Linked DNA regions of Homo sapiens. The protein of the gene in region 1 purifies or fractionates together with the protein of each later gene. This does not show direct contact. Each region holds a gene or a part of one and is shown on either strand. Other genes may lie near its edges.

Region 1 (3,500 bases):
ATGATATAACACTAAAAGCAGAGGCTTGGGAATTCAAATGAATTTAGATTCAAATGCTAATGCTACTGACAGCTTTGTGACAGCAAGTCTGAGTCTCATCATTTATAAAATGATCACTTATAGAAAGGTTATGAGAAAAAAAGTACAATTCATATAAACATTTAGATAGCTGATGCTAATACTATTACTACTGTTGTTGCCACTATAAGTTAACATTTATATAATAGTGCTTACTCCATGTCAAGTACAATTCTAATTATTTTGCCCATAGAAATTTATTTATCCTAATAATCCTATGAAATAGGTAGCGTTCATAACTCCATTTACAGATAAGACAAATGAGGTAAAGAGCCCCTAAGTAACTTACCCAAGGTGACCCTGCTAGTGTGTTCCAAAGCTAGGATTTAGATGTTCATTGAAGCATAGTTCCCTCCCTCTCTATAGAGCTTTAATCAAATCTTTAAATTTCACAGGTGAACAGTGTTATATGAACAGCAGAATACTTTAAAAAATACCTCCAGATTAGAGGTTCTTAAACTTTAGTTGAAATTTTTCTTACTCTACTTATATGGCAAAGTAGGAGAGAGTACCCTAAAATTGTAAATAGCTGCTTCCAAAGTACATGCAGGTAATAACAACATCCACTATTTTTCAAACAGCCACTACATGACAATTATGAAGCCAGATACTACACATGCCTTATTTAATGTCCCCCAAATCTCAGAAGATATTATTCCCATTTTAAAGTGGAAGCATGTTCAAAGAGATTATATAAATTGTGAGGCTACTACGTGGCCAGAGTAGTACTTGAACTTAAGTGGGCTGTATTACAGAACTCATATTCAATACACAATGCTGTCATTCAAAGTGGTTGCTTTGCATAGTTACTTCTTTAAATTACTTCTAAACTTCAACAAGCAAAGAATCACTTTGGTGCATGAATGGAATGCCCTGCACCTCTTCAAATGCTCACTCCAAGTCCATTCATGAGGTTTACTCTACTCTTGTGTATAGCCTCTTTGGGGATGTTGTAGAACTACTAGAGTCTTTTTCTAGAAATTCAATCTTTAGGAAATCATTGTCAAAGAATGGACTTTAAATAGGAAGAACACTTTTTTTTTTTTTGGCTATAGAATCGTCTTAAGTGCATGAGATATACAAACAATACAAACACACCCATGAATATATACACATAATGTCACCATATCGGTAACTTGAGGTTGTTCAAAATGTTTATATTTAGAGGAAAATATAAGAGATTATCATCATTAATAGCTACCAATATTAAATACCTGTCATTTATTTTTAGTAACATCTAGAATGGCCTTGATCACTTAAAACATCTTGCCCCAGTCTTACACAGTCCACAAATTTTTCTTTCTGTTCAGAATCTGCAAAGCATTACTCTTACTCTGTATCTAGAATCTACCTGTTAACAGCTCATATGAATAATTAAAGAAGGTTTAATTTTGGAATTGTACTTAATCCATCTTACTGCTAGTCACTGTTACTGTGAGATCTGCATCAGAGAGTTCTGACAGTAGAATCAGCAAAATGAAAAACGGCTCACAGCACAAACTCTTCCTGCTAGGATTTATCACTACTTAAAAATAGCAAATGGCTGCTGCTAGTATCTTAAAGACTTCTCCTACCTTTGTTTATCTAGTTAAATTTATTATTACTTTTCATACATACATACTGAGCAGACTGTTGTAGTAGGTGTTGGTTTAAAAGTTAACTAAGTTACTCTGCTTAATATTTTCCACCATTAATAGGTATATTAATTTTTAGGCCCTAATTTCATATTTAAAATGTGGGCTAGAATTGAGACCCAAATTAGTAAACCTTGAAGACTCATGCTGTAGAGTTTCAAAGTAACTGCCATTGCCACACACTCTTTTCAGCCAGCCAGGTCAGAACTGGCTGTGTCATACTCTTCCTCGAGCTTGACTCTTTGGCAGTGTCATACTTTTTCCCGGTTGTAGGCAGAATTTACAACCATCTAACAAAAAGACTAAGGACCCTTGGATTGAAAGTTTCCTAAAATCTTTTCTTTTTCTGGGCTTTTTATAATAGTTCACCATCGGCTTATCTAAGAGATAATCTAACAATATTATATACTGTACAAGACATTATTTTTCTCAAACTCTGCTTTTTAAAACTACTATTACAAAAAACCCTAATTACTACTAAAAAAAACTTCATAAAAATAATTATTAAATGTGACTGCAATTTGAAACCTCAAAAAATTAATATTTAATGGAATAAAATGTATAACCTAAAAAGTTTTATTTAGTACAACAGAAATGCTTACTAAAAATCAAAATGTTTTAAATCCTAGATTATTTGACACATTTTGGCTTAGAAATTATTCAACAGATTTTTTTAAGTATAGGACAGTAAAAGTTATGTTATTCCATTATATAAAGCTTTTAAGGAAATATCTGAAAAATATTAACCAAACTGAGTTACAAATACTTACTTGTAAATAGGTAATAACTCATGTCTTTTGATGGCACTGTCTGATTTTGTATCACTGTCATACAACCTTTGCACAAGTCTTCCCGTTCGAAGTGGAGGGCCTAACTTGTCCATATTACTATTAAAATATATAAAGGTGTACCCATAAGGAGATTGCTACTGCTTCTTTATATAAAGTTTTTTTAAAAGACATTATTCTGGTTCATCAGATATCTACTCCCCAAGTCCTTAATTTTATCTGACTGTCAAGGTAAGAACTAATGTCCAAAAGAATCCTCAGAGAGTTCATACAATGTCCATTATTAGGTCTGAAAATTCTGACTACACAGGCTACCCTACACATCCAAACAAATGTCAAATTATACACAGCAGGGCAATGGAATCAATGAAGAAACTTAGGAAGAACAACTATTTCAAAAAAAAAATCATGAAGCTATAAGTGAACTGAATGCTGTTATTCACAAATGATTTTTCTTCCTCCCAGAATTCATGGAAACTTTCTCTACTCTTCATATTATTTATTTCCGTGCTTTTTAAAATTCCAAAAATAAGGAATTGACTAAATAACATGTACTCCATTTGACTTTCTAACTCCACTGACTTCTAACAAAAAAGTGACTTTATTTCTGAAATGTATCCAAAGTAAAACAGGACTCGGCATGGAAAAAAAAAACATGGATGACAATTCTAAAAATCACATATAATAATGGTAAGGGGCCTATATATACACACACACATTTTGACCAAAATTATAAAGGCTCTCCATCTAGAGGATAGCAGGACAAACTGCAGGTTTGTAGGATATTTCACTGTTTTAAATCAACCAACCAAATAACTGAATCATATAAACTATCACCAACCAACATCTAGTCATAGTAGGAAGCAGGGAAAATTGAATTATGACATTAGGAAACAATCTTATTTGCTACTGAATAACACATCACTGCTTGTTAACTTTAAAAGTCTGTTCTTTTTAAGAGATATTTGCTCACTCATTTCTTTACTTATTCACTGACTAT
Region 2 (3,500 bases), on another chromosome or scaffold:
AGCAGTGTCAACCACATAGGCAAACTCATCCAGCATCTCTTTTCCTGGGGTCACAGCCAGAAGAGATCTGCTGGGCTGTTTGCCCAGAGGGTGCAGATGTGTATCTACTTACCATGCTGTACAGGTAAGGTCCCCAGGAGAGCACCGAATCTAAAGGAAATCACATATGTACAAATCAAGTATGTCATACCTCTGTCTTTCCAAAGACAAACCTACTGTCTTCTCTCTAAAGAAGAAAGAGACAGAAGCAAGAAACCCGGTGGCTTTGGATTGGAAGGCTCCTCAATTCACCTGTACCCATGCAGGAGGCGGGCTGATGTCTCAGTGTCTGGAAGGTGGGATAAGGGTGTGGGGGCCTTTCTGTTGACTCTTAAGACTAATGGCACATTAATTTGGCCTGATACTGGTCCAGCAAGTGAGTCATTGCCGATGACAGCATCCCCACAGGCAGGCTGTAGGTATGCAGGTGGAGGCTCTTATCTGTGGACCTCTAGGCCTTTTGACAGCTTAAAATATTTCCCCACCCTCACATTTCTGCTCTACATCTTATTTGCTCCTCCAGTTTGGAGATATTAGCTTCTGCCAAGGAGCTAAATAAGGAAGATGACTAATGAGTTTGCAACAGTGCAAATGGCTATATTGCCAATTGGCTTATTCCCATCCCACAAACATATTGAGAATTTACTAAGGGTCTAGAGGCAGCAAAAGCTTAAGATATAAATGTGAGTAACATAATGCCTGTCCTCAAAGAGAATAGTAGTTGACCTTGGTTTAGACAAGCTCACAACTATTAAATACTGTATCACTAGGTAAGACAAGTGCTATTGAAAGACACGCCAACAAAGAATCAAGGACCTCAACTTATAAAGCACATTTGAGTATGTCTCTCCTTAGCTTAAAAGTATTCAATGGCTCCTTAAGGCAAAGTGTCTCAAAGTAGGTTTCAAGTAGTCTTAGTTCTGCAGGAACTAAGTCCATGTTGCCCAGTCTGGTCTCGAACTTTTGGGCTCAAGCAATCTGCTCGCTTTGGTCTCCCAAAGTGCTAGGATTACAGATGTGAGCCACTACACCTGGCCTGGACTGGTATTCTTTTAGAGTACTCTCTGAGAAATGCAAGCACACCAGGACTTCCGTGGCCTAGCTGTTAATCACCTCCCGGGCTTAACCTTCAAACTTGTTTCTTAGTTTCTTAAAACACAGGATTGGCTGCAGTTCTCCAATGCATCCCACTTCCTGTTTGATCTGGGCCAGAGACTGGTAAACTTTCTGTAAAGGGACAGATAGTAAATAATTTTGGCCTGGTAGGCCAGCCTATCTCGGTTGAACTACTCCACTCTGTTCTTACAGCCTCCAAACAGCCATAGACAGTAAATTAACTTTTACCGGCTGGGTGCGGTGGCTCACGCCTGTAATCCCAGCACTTTGGGAGGCCGAGGTGGGCAGATCACCTGAGGTCAGGAGTTGGAGACCAGCCTGGCCAACATGGTGAAACCCCATCTCTACTAAAAATACCAAAAACATTAGCCAGGCGTAGTGGTGGGCACCTGTAATCCCAGCTATTCAGGAGGCTGAGACAGGAGAATTGCTTAAACCTGGGAGGCGGAGGTTGCAGTGAGCCGAGATCGTGCCACTGCACTCCAGTCTGGGCAACAAGAGCAAAACTCCATCTCAAAACAAACAAACAAAAACAAACAAACAACAAAAACTTATTTACCAGAGCAGGCGGCAGGGCAGACTTGACTCATGGGCCCTTGTTTACCAATCTTTGAAGTAGGCCTGCATTGTTCAATAGAACTTTCTACAGTAATGGAAGTGTTCTGTATCTGTGCAGTCCAAAATGCTAGCTAATAGCCACATGTGTCTATGGAGCACTTGGGTGTAGAGAGTGCCCCTGAAAAAATGAAATTGTATTTAAAAATTATAATTAAATTTATATAGTCACATGTGGCAAGTGGTTACCATACTGACATGGTCACATGGGCTTAGTGACAGTGCAGATCAAGACCTTCTTGAAGATCAGGAGCTTATCTGTGTATCTTTTCCTAGCACCTAGAACAGTATCTACTACCTAGCAAGCAATTAACAATTGTTCATGGAAATTAACAATACTTCTCCCTCAAAAACCAATGTTTCTGGGATAGAGGGGCAATACTTAAAGTGGATCTGGAAGGATGGATTACGATCCAGACAAACAGATTCATAAGGTAAAGTGGGTCACGGCAAGGAGAAAAAGGTAGATTCCAAACACAATGAATAACACTTGCAAAGCCAGGAAGCGAAACGTACTGATCTTGGAGAGACAATGTAGCAAGGTGGTTAGGTTGCTTGGATTCCAGTACCTGCTGCCTGGATTTGAATCCCAGTTCTACCATTTAGCTAGGTGACTCTAAGAAAGTTGCTTAACCTCTCTAAGTCTCAGTTTCATCATTTACAAAATTAGGATAATGATAGCATCCATCCCATGGAGTTGTTGTAAGGATTACATGAAGTTAGCACATGTAAAGTACTTAGTGCTACTGTGAAACTGAGGAGACCCCATGAGGAAGTGAGAGGGCCAGCATCATAATTTTGAGTCATAAACAACTCTTATCTGTGTTCCCAGTGAGGATGCTCAGTTATGAAACAGCACACCTCTGGGTTGCAAGACCTGATGGAGACTTTGTCTTGCCATCAACATGAACAAAAGAGCAGTATCTGACAAGAAACTCTCATGCTTCTCTAAGCTTCTGCAGTTTTATGATGTCCTACGAGATCCATCCAGGAAGGAAAGACAGATAAACGAATAGCAGCCCTCCTCTTCATGCTGACTCAGTTTTATGCTACTTCAGTCCTACCCTGCAGATGGCAAACATGAGGGCAAGAAATACTATTCCAAGTCGTAATGGTTATTGGGAATATGGCTCTGTAACAAGCAAATCCCTATCTTTTAGGGGTAAATATTACCTTTTATAAATGATTATTTTTAAAAAACTGAGCCATAATCACAAATCACAAGTGTACCTTCAGAAGAGTTTTGATGAATGCATATGCCCGTGTAACCACCCCCTGCAATCAAGATATATTTCCCTCATGTACCTTTCCTGCTTATTTCCCTCCTTTGCCCCTAGGCAGCCTCTCTTCTGATTTCTAACTCGATAGTTTGGTTTTGCCTGGGGAAATCACGTTTTGTTAGGTTAGAACAATGGTTCTCAATCAGGGATGGTTTTGTTCCCCAGGGAGACATTTCTGGTTGTCACACTGGAGCGGTGCTACTAGCATCTCCTGAGTAGAGGCCAAGGATGCTGCTGATAATATCCTACAATGCACAGGACAGCCTCCCACAAAAAGAACTATATGACCCACAATGTCAACAGTGCTGAGAAACCCTGTGTTAGAGTGAACGCCACCAGGATGATTGTTTCAGATGTCTGGGGCCACACCCTGGGTGTCTGCAACATAAACAACTCTTATTTATGCTCGCAACACGGATGCTCAATTACAAAACTGCACACTTCTGAGTT

Evidence for each region. Proteins that work in one complex are often made in the same cells at the same time.
Region 2: the proteins of ZC2HC1A (region 1) and SCPEP1 fractionate together in Homo sapiens (co-fractionation; one large-scale study listed by BioGRID). This does not show direct contact.

The regions. Positions count from the first base shown.
Region 1 is NC_000008.11:78,711,089-78,714,588, reverse strand, and holds part of ZC2HC1A (zinc finger C2HC domain-containing protein 1A), read right to left. Parts: intron 2,600-3,500; coding exon of another isoform or gene 2,483-2,599; intron 1-2,482.
Region 2 is NC_000017.11:56,991,631-56,995,130, reverse strand, and holds part of SCPEP1 (retinoid-inducible serine carboxypeptidase precursor), read right to left. Parts: intron 151-3,500; coding exon 113-150; intron 1-112. UniProt on the Homo sapiens protein: May be involved in vascular wall and kidney homeostasis.